Homo sapiens: one gene and its partners. The protein of the gene in region 2 purifies or fractionates together with the protein of the main gene of each other region. This does not show direct contact. Each region holds a gene or a part of one and is shown on either strand. Other genes may lie near its edges.

Evidence for each region. The genes of interacting proteins can lie anywhere in the genome.
Region 1: the proteins of ZNRF2 (region 2) and IDH2 purify together in Homo sapiens (affinity purification with mass spectrometry, with the first as the bait; one large-scale study listed by BioGRID). This does not show direct contact.
Region 3: the proteins of ZNRF2 (region 2) and ATP1A2 purify together in Homo sapiens (affinity purification with western blotting; one study listed by BioGRID). This does not show direct contact.
Region 4: the proteins of ZNRF2 (region 2) and ANKRD52 purify together in Homo sapiens (affinity purification with mass spectrometry; one large-scale study listed by BioGRID and IntAct). This does not show direct contact.

Annotation. Positions count from the first base shown.
Region 1 is NC_000015.10:90,088,969-90,092,468, reverse strand, and holds part of IDH2 (isocitrate dehydrogenase [NADP], mitochondrial isoform 1 precursor), read left to right. Parts: intron 1-824; coding exon 825-916; intron 917-1,824; coding exon 1,825-1,990; intron 1,991-3,500. UniProt on the Homo sapiens protein: Plays a role in intermediary metabolism and energy production. It may tightly associate or interact with the pyruvate dehydrogenase complex.
Region 2 is NC_000007.14:30,326,097-30,329,596, reverse strand, and holds part of ZNRF2 (E3 ubiquitin-protein ligase ZNRF2), read right to left. Parts: intron 1-3,500. UniProt on the Homo sapiens protein: E3 ubiquitin-protein ligase that plays a role in the establishment and maintenance of neuronal transmission and plasticity. Ubiquitinates the Na(+)/K(+) ATPase alpha-1 subunit/ATP1A1 and thereby influences its endocytosis and/or degradation.
Region 3 is NC_000001.11:160,139,759-160,141,924, forward strand, and holds part of ATP1A2 (sodium/potassium-transporting ATPase subunit alpha-2 precursor), read left to right. Parts: intron 1-134; coding exon 135-226; intron 227-1,535; coding exon 1,536-1,564; 3' UTR 1,565-2,166. UniProt on the Homo sapiens protein: This is the catalytic component of the active enzyme, which catalyzes the hydrolysis of ATP coupled with the exchange of sodium and potassium ions across the plasma membrane.
Region 4 is NC_000012.12:56,251,885-56,255,384, forward strand, and holds part of ANKRD52 (serine/threonine-protein phosphatase 6 regulatory ankyrin repeat subunit C), read right to left. Parts: intron 3,069-3,500; coding exon 2,981-3,068; intron 2,837-2,980; coding exon 2,694-2,836; intron 2,396-2,693; coding exon 2,183-2,395; intron 1,917-2,182; coding exon 1,838-1,916; intron 1,519-1,837; coding exon 1,404-1,518; intron 1,203-1,403; coding exon 1,120-1,202; intron 1,014-1,119; coding exon 896-1,013; intron 687-895; coding exon 618-686; intron 432-617; coding exon 291-431; intron 212-290; coding exon 131-211; intron 1-130. UniProt on the Homo sapiens protein: Putative regulatory subunit of protein phosphatase 6 (PP6) that may be involved in the recognition of phosphoprotein substrates.

The sequences.
Region 1 (3,500 bases), on a different chromosome or scaffold from region 2:
GCATCAGTGCATTCCAGCCTGACCAATGGAACAGGACCCTGCCAAGAAAGAGAGAGAGAAAGGGAGGAAGGAACGAAAGGAAGGAAGGAAGGAAAGAAAGGAAAGGAAGGAAAGAAAGGAAAGGAAGTAAGTAAGGATGGATGGATCCAGGTGCTCTAAACCAGCAGTTCCCAAAGTTTTTGGCACCAGGGGCCAGTTTCATGGAAGACAATTTTTCCACGGGTGGCAGGGTGGTGGGCAGCGGGGATGGTTTTGGGATGAGTCAAGTGCATTACATTTATTGTGCACTTTATTTCTATTATTATTACATTGTAATATATAATGAAAAAATTATATAGCTCACCATAATGTACAATCGGGGGGTCCTGAGCTTGCTTTCCTGCAACTAGACAGTCCCATCTGGAGGTGCTGGAAGACAGTGACAGATCATCAGGCATTAGATTCTCATAAGGAGTATGCAACCTAGATCCCTCGTGTGCGCAGTTCCCAGGCATGAGCTCAGGTGGTAGTAGTGCTCACTCACCTGCAGCTCTCCTCCTGCTGTGTGGCCCAGTTCCCAACAGTCCGTGGACCTGCACTAAAGGCTGTGGCCTGGTCTGCTGACCTCTCTCCAGAGCCCACGGTACTAGTCCATGGCCTGGGAGTTGGGGACCCCTGCTCTAAGCAGTGAGGGAGCTGATTTGCAGACGGGGGAGTGGACACCGGGCAGCTGGAGCCCTGGCTTTCTGCCACTGTCTCCTGGTGAAGGGCGGGCCTGGCTGGGAGGAGAGGGCCCCCCTCCAGCCTCCCCAGGGGCATGATGCGCTGTGTGTCCCTGCTTCTAGATGCCGACAAAAGGATCAAGGTGGCGAAGCCCGTGGTGGAGATGGATGGTGATGAGATGACCCGTATTATCTGGCAGTTCATCAAGGAGAAGGTAGTGCCCCCTCCTGAAGTGGGTGGCTCTCCAGGTGGGCTGGCCAGGGATTGTTCTGTCCCACAGGGTCTTCTGGACTGCAGGTCCCTAGGACCCCCCCGTTGTCCTGGTAGGCAGCAGCAGCTCTGTTTCTCTCCCTCTGTCTACCCTTCTTTCACATCTGGTCCACTAATTGTTCAGAAGTCGTCAGGCGGGGGCCTGTCCCCAGCAGTCCGTGTTGTGATGGTGCCAGATCCCACACGTTCTGTCAACTTTGAGAAGCTTCAAGGTTAATCCTGTATCATTTCCATCTTGATCCCCTACGTTTTGCCTCACTTCTTGAAAAGGAGTGAAAAGGGAACAGGGCTGGTGTGTAGGGCAGTGACCCAGCCTGCAGTTGTGACGAGCCACCATGGCAAAGGGGTCCCAGAGTGGCCGCTTGGCTTCTCCAAAGTTGCCGTGGTCTATGTATGTCCAGGAGAGCATGTAGTCCTTGTGAAGGCCCCACACTGTGTGTGCGTTCATGGGACAAAGGTTGAGAACTGTCACTTCCAACTGTAAGATCTCAAAGCACTTGAGAAGAGGAAACCAGTTGTATAGAGAAATCTAGATGTACTTGGGGTTGGGGTTTGGCTGAGTTGATGGGCCATGTGAGGGGGGCACACAGGCACAGTGGAGGAAGAACCCTCCAAAAGACTGCGGCCTGGCCTGCCAACCTCTCTCCAAAGCCCCAGCCTCTGCCAGCTCTGGCCAGGCCCCACTGAGAAATGGCTGACTCCAGCTTTCTGCTGCGCCCCTCCACTGGCCTTCACTCATCCCTGTTTTGACTGACTGTCCCCTGCCATGGCCTGCAGACTTCTTATCCTGCCCTTTGTTGTCATGTCCCTGAGTCACTGGGGTGACGCCTTGCTCTGGCCCTCTGTCCCCAGCTCATCCTGCCCCACGTGGACATCCAGCTAAAGTATTTTGACCTCGGGCTCCCAAACCGTGACCAGACTGATGACCAGGTCACCATTGACTCTGCACTGGCCACCCAGAAGTACAGTGTGGCTGTCAAGTGTGCCACCATCACCCCTGATGAGGCCCGTGTGGAAGGTGCGAGGGTGTGGAGGTGGGCGGGCCAGGGAGGGTCACAGGCTTCTCCCACCGGCCTCTCCAGACTTGGGGTGGGGCAGTTGGCCATGTCACTCATCTCGGGACTGGGAGGTTGGGAGGCTCCAGAGCTGGGGCTTTCCTGAGGCCAACTGCACCTGAGGCCAGTCTCCCTGTGTGTGCCTGGTGGACAGTGGGGCCTCAGAGGTCACCTTTGATGAGGCTGGGGCAGGCGTGGGTAAGGGGCTGGCCTCAGGTTCCACGGTTAGGGCACAGCAGAGCTGAGAACAGAATCCATGTCTTCCATCTCCCAGGCCAGTGGTGTTTCTGCTTCACTCTGGCTCTGACAGTGGTAGGTGTCATCGGTGACAGGGCTGAGGAGGAGGAGGAGGAGGAAGGTAATGCTGATGTGGTCACAGTAAGGATGGCTTCTTTGGGCAGTAGTCCATTCTGGCGTGGACAGTCTTGCAGGCAGGTATGCAGAGAGATTGTGCAGAGGAGTGCTGTGTGTAAGGCCTGTGTCCTTCAGAGCCTCAGCAGCCTCTGGGGAACATTGCTGTTGCCCTCCTGCCACTGGCTTGGCCTTGCAGGTCTGCCTCTGTCCCCATGGTCATGCAGGGTCACTGAGAGGTGCCCCCACCAGGCCTAGACTGGCTTCTGGTCCTTGGCTGTTGGGGCCGCTCTCGAGGGTTCCATGAAGTCACAGCAGTGTGTGTGCAGAGGGGCCAGGTTTGGATAATTCGAGAAAGGATGGTTGAGGAGTTTTCTGAGCTCTCTCTTCCTACTTTCCACAGTTGGAGGGAGCTGGCGGAAAGTACTCGAGATACATCTGCAAATTCCCCAGGCCTGCCCCTGTCCTGCAGGTCATGCCTGACCCACAGCACTGGGATCATTTGAGTGTTGAGCTCTTCATTTCACCTGAACCTTGGGAGTTGTGTATCCCCATTTATGGACAAGGCAGGAGAGGGTCACAGCCTTAGGAACTGGGGTGGCGTTGGGGCCAGGACCGGAGCATGTGGAGTGGGCAGTGTGTTGTCAGGCTTCGTCAGACAAGTCCTTCCCCCGGACTGTACTCCCTCCATGTGTGATGTGGGAATCATAATGGCCAACAGAGCACTTAGCATGGACCGGGCACCGTTCTAGGCCCTTTACACACGAGCTCATTTCGTCCTCACGACAACACTTAGGCTGGTTATTTTTCCAGTAATTTTTTTTTACAGCTTTGGTTGAGCCACTTTTGTAAGCCTCACCATTAAAACTGGCAGACTTGCTGGGCATGGTGGCTCACACCTGTAATCCCAGCACTTTGGGAAGCCGAGGCGGGTGGATCACCTGAGGTTGGGAGGTCGAGACCAGCCTGACCAACATGGAGAAACCCCATCTCTCCTAAAAATACAAAATTAGCTTGGTGTGGTGTCACATGCCTGTAATTCCAGCTGCTCGGGAGGCTGAGGCAGGAGAACCGCTTGAACCCAGGAGGCAGAGGTTGTGGTGAGCCGAGATCGCGCCATTG
Region 2 (3,500 bases):
ATTATGTTAAGTGAAATAAGCCAGGCACAGAAAGACAACTATAGCATATTTTCACTCATTATGTGGGAGCTTAAAAAACAAAACAAAACAAAACTGATCTCATGGAGACAGAGAGAAGAATGATGGTTACCAGAGGCTGGGAAGGGTACTGGGGAAGGGGGATATAAAGAGGGTTTGATTAATGGGTACAAAAATACCTTCAGATAAAAGGAATAAGACCTAGTGCTTGGAAGCACAACAGGACAACTATAGTTAACAATAATTTATTGTGTATTTCAAAATAACTAGAAAAGCAGAACTGGTATGTACCTAATACAAAGAAATTATAAATGCTTGAAGTGATGGATGTCCCAATTATCCTGATTTGATCATTACACATTGTACATTTGTATCTGAATATCACATGGACCCCTATAAATGTACTATTATGTACACATAATAAAATTTTTTAAAAAAACTAAGAATTTGCTAATAATATTTAATTTGTTGGCTTGTCTGAAATATCCTAGAAGGAGCAAGGAAATGAAGAGAGCCTCTATACTCATAAAATTTGTATTAGATTCATAGACTATACAAGGAATTATTAGGTCCATAAACTCAACAATGAAGCACATGAAAGAGGGAAAAGTATATGAAACAGGCAGTCCTTCACATGAAGGTAATCTATGTTGTTGAATACTCACTGTGGCATTCTTAATTTTTTCAAGCTGCCAAAATACCATCTGCAATAGATAATACCACCCACATCATTCAAAATCCTTCCCTGCCCTGACAGCCTTGGGCGTCCCATTGGGATCTCTGCCGAGCCAGCTGCCCAATCCCTGAGAGTTTCTACCTAGTCAGCCAATTTCTTCTTCAGGTACCAGGATGTGGGTGTTCAGATATATTGTGCATTTAAAAAAATAAGAAGGTTTTGGTGAGCTAGTCTGAAAAACCAATATTTCAAATATCATCTCTGTGACAAAGAGTCTGAAACTCTAAATCATCAACTTATATTTGAATTTCTGGAACTCATCCAATTCAGGAGCTTATCTATATAAATATATCCAGTCTGAAGAAAACAAGCCCCACTATTCTTGTGTTATAACTATGAATGTTTATAGACAGTTAACATTCACTTAACAAATAAATTTCAAAATTTCAGATCTAGCTACTTTGGAAAAGGCTGCAAAAGTGTAAGTTAAATGAACAGTATGCTGAAAAAAATGTTCTTGTTTGAGCACTAACACAATTCAGAGGCCCAATGTATCTGATGTATCTCTCTATGGAATCAACATGTAGGAATTCAAATATAAAATTGTGAGGAATCCAGTTGACTAAAAAGATTCAGTTTTAGAGATTCTCTGGCTTTACCTTGTTCTACTTTATAATAATCCTAGATGGTTTGCTTATGAGGTATTAAAGGAGCCAATTTCCATTTGGACTCATCACCTGTGACAGACATTTTGGGGGGGGTCTGACTTTAAAACCAGGTGGCATTAGAATTCCCCTTGCCTATGATAGGAAAGTACATTATTAACCTGCCACCTCTCTGTAACCCTCCAAATCAGTCCAGGCAAAGCTCCTTTCTCCTTCACTTACTCATAACTGGCCACTGTCCAAGAGCTAGTTTTAAAACCTCAAAAACTATACACGGTTTTTATTAAGAAGCTGTATTTGCTTCTTGCTGTGAATGTTTATACAATTAATACATACTTTGAATTTTTTATCTCTACAAAATAAAAAATAAAAGCCAGGCATGGTGGCATGCACCTGTAGTCCTAGCTACTTAGGAGGCTGAGGTAGGAGGATCACTTGTGCCCAGGAGTTTGAGGCTGTCGTGTGCCATGACTGTGCCTATAGATAGCCACTGAGCTCCAGCCCGGGCAACACAGCAAGATCCTGACTCTAAAAACAAAAATATATATATTTTTATTTTTTAAAGCTTTCAGTCAGCAACTTTAAGAATGCCTACAAGTTTATTTACTTATTGCATGAAATTTATTAATTTCTAGATTGAAATACTGTTAAATATTTAAAATTCGAAATATTTGGTTGTTATAGTATCCCCAAGCAGAAGGTTATATATTAGTTCTTAAGACACCAAACAAGTGATCTAGCAGAACAGTTTAATGACTTAGGCATAGTTAAATCAGGAAATTAAGAACTGTCAAATATCCAAACCTGACCAAAAACAAGCAATGGGGAAAGGATTCCCTATTCAATAAATGGTGCTGGGATAACTAGCTAGCCATATGCAGAAGATTGAAACTGGACCCCTACCCCACGCCAACCTCCTTAAACCACATACAAAAATTAAGTCCAGATGAATTAAAGACTTAAATGTAAAATCCAAAACTATAAAAACCCTGGAAGACAACTTATGCAATACCATTATAGACATAAGAACAGGCAAAGATTTCATGACAAAGGCACCAAAAGCAATTGCAACAAAACCAAAAATTGACAAATGGGATCTAATTAAACTAAAGAGCTTCTGCACAGCAAAGGAAACTATCAACAAAGTGAACAGACAACCTACAGAATGGGAGAAAATTTTTGCAAACGAAGCATCTGACAAAGGTTTAATATCCAGCATATATAAGGAACTTAAACAAATTTACAAGAAAAAAGCAAACAACCCCATGAAAAAATGTGCAAAGGAGATGAACACTTTTCAAAAGAAGACATAAATGTGGCCAAGAATCATATGAAAAAAAGCTCAACATCACTGATCATTAGAGAAATGCAAATCAAAACCACAAGGAGATACCATTTCAAGCGTCAGAATGCGTATTATTAAAAAGTCAAAAAAAAATACATGTTGGAGAGGCTGCAGAGAAAAAGGAACACTTAACACACTGTTGGTGGGAGTGTAAATTAGTTCAACCATTGTGGAAGACAGTATGGCAATTCCTCAAAGACCTAAAAACAGAAATACCATTTGACCCATCAATCCCACTACTGGGTATACACCTAAAGGAATATAAATCCTTGTGTTATAAGACACATGCATGCATATGTTCACTGCAGCACTGTTCACAAGAGCAAAGACATGGAATCAACCTAAATGCCCATCAAATGATAGACTGGATAAAGAAAATGTGGGTCCATATATACCGTGTGAATACTACACAGCCATAAAAAAGAAGATCATGTCCTCTGTGGAAACATGGATGGAGCTGGAGGCCATTATCCTCAGCAAACTCACACAGGAACAGAAAAGCAAATTCCGCACGTTCTCACTTGTAAGTGGGAGCTAAATGATGAGAGCACATGGACACAAAGAGGGGAACAATACACATTGGAGCCTACCAGAGGGTGGAGAGTAGGAGGAAGGAGAGGATCAGAAAAAATAACTAATGAGTACTAGGCTTAATACCTGAGTAACAAAATATCTGTAGAACAAACCCCCATGACACAAGTTTACCTATATAACAAACCTGCACATGTACCCCTCAACTTAAAAGTTAAAAAAATTGTTAAATATCACAATACACAAGAAGACTGTATTCTAGATA
Region 3 (2,166 bases), on a different chromosome or scaffold from region 2:
GCGGCCTGAGTAGTCATACGGGGGGCCTTCAGCCCCCTCCAGGATCCAAGTTCTGATCGCTTTGAATGCTCCTTTATGTGACAGCCACCAAGCCAACCTCTGATGCTGCTGACACTCTCCTCCATTGCTTTCAGAGTCACCTGGTGGTTCTGCGCCTTCCCCTACAGCCTCCTCATCTTCATCTATGATGAGGTCCGAAAGCTCATCCTGCGGCGGTATCCTGGTGGTAAGCCCCTCCACATTCCCCCCAGCAAAGTGCAAGCCCCACCACCAGCTCCTCCCTCCAGGACCACACGCAGACTCCACTCCCACTACTGGTTCCTGCTTCTGTTCCTCAACACCCTCAGATCCTGGGGTCCCAGGTCCCAGGAGCCCTGACTCTTTCGAACCTGTTGTCTCTGCCCTCTTCCCATCAGATTCTAAACCCCGCCTAACTCACAGTTGGTCTCCGAGGCCCTCCACCTTCCACCTGAAACCACAGAACATCAGAATTAGAAGGGCCTTTCCAGGTCACCTAGTCCCACGTCCATATTTTACAGATAGAGGAGGCTCAGAGGTGAATCTGTTCAGGGTCGTAAAGCAAAGAATAGCAGGACTGGTACTAGAACCCAGGCCTCCTGATCCCCACTCATCAACCGACAAGTTATTGTTTTTCCTACAAGCGTTTTTTAATCACTTAGTAGAGGTTAAAATATGATGGCTTACAAACCAAATACTGTCCAGGAATACTGTTTGGTTTGACCTGTGCCATATTTTGTGTGTGTGGGGGGAGGAGGGTGGATTAATTGGTCCGATATAGAAAATTTAGGGTCTTTCACATAAAATCTGAATTCGACTTCTCCTGAAGATCAGAAGAGCTGTTAATCCCATGTCCACATCTCTGCACAGCAAGAATGGACAGCTGCTCCCTTAGACTCTCGTTCGTCACCTGAAGAGGCCCTGTGGGCGTTTGCATTTTCACCCTCGACCTATTCTGCCCCAGCCTCCAATGTGCTAAATACAAGTCTCCCCTAAAGGCAGGTTCACCCTCCCTTCCTTTAACCTATGGCCCCAGCTCACTGGACCTCCTTCTCCTCCCTTTCACCTTCTTTTTTTTTTTTTTTTTTTTTTTTTTTTTGAGACGGAGTCTCGCTCTGTCGCCCAACCAGGAGTGCAGTGCAGTGGCACGATCTCGGCTCACTGCAAGCTCCGCCTCCTGGGTTCAAGCAATTCTCTTGCCTCAGCCTCCAGAGTAGCTGGGATTGCAGGCGCATGCCACTATGCCCGACTAATTTTTTGTATTTTTAGTACAGACAGGGTTTCACTGGGTTAGCCAGGAGTCTTGATCTCCGCCTGCCTCAGCCTCCCAGTATGCTGGGATTACAGGCATGAGCCACTGCACCCAGCCTCCTTCCACCTTCCTAAGCCACTTCCCCCAGTGCCCTTCACCAGGCTTCTCCTTCCACCTGGCTTCAGCGACCCAAGCCCCTAGGAAATTGATCTCTTGCCTCCTTTTAAGCTCATGCTGCAATCTCCACTCCCAATCTCTCTAACAGGCTGGGTGGAGAAGGAGACATACTACTGACCCCATTGGAAGAAGAACCAGGCATGGAAAGATGGGGAGCTCTGGAGGTGTTGTGGGGATGGTGATGGAGAGGGATGGAAATAACGGGTGGCATTGGGTGGCAACATTTGGGGAGAGATAATGAGGCAACTCAGCAGGCTAAGTTGCGGGGTATATAAATTGGGGTGATGACCCCATAGACCTAACTGTGAACAATCAGATTAGACACTATGTGTTAGAGTCCCCCCGACCAGATCCTTTTCCATCCCACTCCACTATGTTGTCTATTTTTTCTGAGGAATTAAGGGTTACCCCACCCTGCCCACTCCCATCCCTTCAACCCCACTTCCTACTGTAATAGATCAGCATCCAAAAGCAGGAACCCATCTAAACCAGAAGGAAGCCCTCTCAGATCACCCCAGCCTCACTCCATTTCCCACTTCCACCCCCGTTAGCTTCCTGCAGGACTCTATCCCTGGCTTCCCCTTCAGACCTTGCAATCACAAAAGGTTCTTCTGGTGAGTGCAAGAGCCTGAGACTGGAAAAGGTGGACTTGTCTCCCAGTCGAGGCTGGTAAGGGACCTTCAGGGAGAGCTGGGCAGACAGGTGGGAGATGGAGGTAG
Region 4 (3,500 bases), on a different chromosome or scaffold from region 2:
ACACACTGCTGGCTGACCGGCAGGACAGCAGCAGTATAGGGTAGAGGTTCAGATTAGGTAGGAGGACAGTAGGGCCAGAGCTTGCATGGGTTGGGGAAAGCACATCCCAGGGGCCCTCTCTGCTACTCACAAGAAGGCCTCCTTCCTGCGGGACTCCTTCAGTGGCTCGTCCTCTTCGGCATCATGGCTGGAAGGTGTATGGGGTTCCGCTCTGGGGAAGAGAGAGAGAAAGTTAGGGCCAGGCTCAGGGAGGTGAATGGGGCTGAGAAGGACCAGACTGGTAGCCTCACCTCCTGTAAGTGTCAGAAGCGGCAGCGTAGTGGAGGGGAGAGCAGCCTTTACAGTCGGCCTCGTTGACACCTGCCCCAGCAGTCACCAATGTTACTGCACACTGGTAGCTACCGTTAGCAGCTGCATAGTGCAGTGGGGTCCTGGGGAAGAAGTGAAGGAGGGTGGGGAAGAGAATCAGAGACAGATACGAATGCAATCAGATGTGCAGCCAAATGCTGCTTTGTAACATTCTCCTTATTTAAGTCTCCAATCTAAACCCTTCCTCCCTCTACCATTTGTTTCTCTAATCAGATATTCCCTATGTTTACCCCTGCATATTAGCATACCTGCCAAATTTGTCCCTCCTCCTCAAGTCAGCTCCACTGCTCAACAGCAAATTAAGACATTCAACATTCCTAAAAGAAAGATGTGTTAAGAGAGTTACAGCCTCAAAGGGAAGCCACAGGCCCAGGGTGGGGCTAAGGAAGGATGGGACTAGCAAGCCCTTTCTGCTGTGACTGCTTTCATTGTGAGAGGGGGAATAGATCTGGGCAGGCAAGAATGAGGGGCCCAGACCTTTGCCCAGCTCCCTGCTCAAAGCATGGGAGAGAGAAAGAGAACTCACCCTCCGGAAGCAGCAGCATGAAGACAGGTACGGCCAAGGTTGTCAGGTGTATTGATGTCAAACCCAGCTGAAAGCACATGCTCATTGCTGAGTGAAGACACAATGCTGTACAACTGACCTGGAGGCACAGAACAGCCACAGGTCACATCTGAGAGTGTTCAGCAGGGAGGGAAAGGCCTTTGCTCTCCTATACACCTGCCAATCCCCAGCCCATCAGCACATACCTGAGGAAAGAAGCTTACGACAACAGTCAGAGAATCCAAAGAGAACAGCTAAGTGCAGGGGGAACATGTCATGGATGCCACGCCTAGAGAGAAGTTGAGGGACTCAGTCCTTGGGTCAAGGAGGGACCAAGTAAGACCTCTTCTGTGACCTACCACCACCCTAGAGTCAGGGTAGGAGGTTCTCCAAGGTGCCCTTTGGCAAGCTTATCTGTGCCTCCATGGTTGATGTGAGCAGTCTGTGCAGATCTGGGCAGCCCAGAAGTGGAGTCGGGGCCCTGACTCACCGGGCGGTATCTGCGCCATTGGTCATGAGGGTGCTGATGAGCAGCTCGTGTCCATATCGAGCAGCCACATGCAGTGGCGTGTTCCCAAATTTGTCGGCACAATCAATCTCGCTGCCTGTGAGGGGATGCACACACACAAGCTCAGGCAGACCTCAGGCTTAAGACCACTTTCGCGAGCTAGCCATGATTTGAGTGCCTACTATGTATGCATCAGGTGCCAGGCCCAGGATTCTACATATTTTATCCTGTTTCTAGGCCTTAGGAGACTGGGCAGGGCAGAGCAGGGCCATTTCCACAGGTCCCTTGGTCAGAGTTCCAAGGGCCTATCCTACTGGAAGAGGGCAGGAGAAGGAAGTTAGGAACCTCCCTAGATTCTAGAAATGAGTTCCTTGGGGGAGGAGGGGATGAGAGCACAAAGTCTCCCAGGTCCATACCATTCTGGATGAGGATCTGGGAGCGTGTGAAACGGCCATGGATTGCAGCCATGTGCAGAGGACTTTTCCCTTCTTTGCTCTGTGGAAACATGGTGGGTTTTTGTTTTTGTTTTTTTTTCCAGTGCAAAGCACAGAGAATGCCCTACCTCCCTTCCAAGGACATATCTCTAAGGACAAAAGGGTCATATGGCACCTTCTTAGCCCACTCTTTCCTGAGTCCCTGGCAAGGTCTGATTACCCTAGGAAGCAAGTGGATAATTCCCCAAGAGAGCTATCCAGATACAGTCAGGACCCCTAGATCCAAGTTTCGCTCCCCACTGGTCTAAGCCTTATCCCTTCAGGCACCTGGTAGTTGACGTCAGCCCCATTATTAACCAGTAGCTCCAAGCAGAGAGCGCCATTGGTGGAGACTGCAGCCACATGCAGTGGCGTGAAGCCCTTGTCATTCGGCTGGTTGACATTGGCTCCGGCATTCACCAGCTCAATAGCCACAGCATCCTGGCCCAGGTAGCAGGCGATGTGCAAAGCTGTGTTTCCAAAAGCATTGGGTTCATCGATCTGGATATTCAGGGGTGAGAGTAAGGTGGTATCAGTTTAAACAAAGTAGAAGCCAGCACATGTAGCCTCCAGATCCCAGAAATCCAACGACTGCCTCATTTCCTCTCGGGTTTATGACCCAAGGTACTAAGGTACTAAGGGCACTATGGCTAAGGTAAGCATTATTCAGACCCTCTCTACCACGTCCTTCCAACTTCCCAAAACTATACCAACATCCCAATACCTCATATCTCCGTAACAGACTATAATCTCCTACTTGCTGCCCATAGTTCCCAACCCCAGAGCTCAAAGCCCTGACCTCCGCTCCCATCCGAAGCAGGTACTTCACCACTTCAATCTGGCCACTGGCAGCAGCTGTATGGAGCAGCCCATAGCCCTTGCGGTCCTTGCAGCCGAGGTCTGCTCCCCGTGCCACCAGCAGTTTTAGGACCTCCAAGTGCCCTGAGAAAAGAGAAGACACTCTAAAGGAAGTAGAAGGTAAACTCTAAGACCCTACACTCCTCTCTTCAAAGGCTGCAACCCCACATCCCTGCCCTAGGAATCCTAAATGTCAAATTTCTGATTTTCCCGTGTATTCTCTCTCACCTAGAAAAGCTGCCCAATGCAGAGGCTGCCGCTCCTTTTTGTCACAGACATTCAGGCTGGCTCCCTTGTTGAGGAGCAGGTTCACCGTCTGCATCAGGATATGAAAGACACCTGTTCAGAGCTAGATTCGTGCCCTCAACCTACCTAAGAGCAGAGGCCTCATCTCCTGAAAAGGCTGAGGCAGCCTAATGCCTTTTTCCATGAGCAAAACAACCTGGAGGACTCGAGGGAACAGCAGAAGCAGGCACTAAGGAGGAGATACTGGAGAGATTTGGAACTTTAAGGGAAACAAGAGAGTCTCTTCAGGTGATCTGGTGGTTCTTAAACTCTTTTTTTTTTTTTTTTTGAGACAGTCTCGCTCTGTTACCCAGGCTGGAGTTCAGTGGCATGATTTCGGCTCATTGCAAGCTCCGCCTCCCGGGTTCACGCCATTCTCCTGCCTCAGTCTCCCGAGTAGCTGGGACTACAGGCGGCCGCCACCACACCCGGCTAATTTTTTGTATTTTTAGTAGAGACAGGG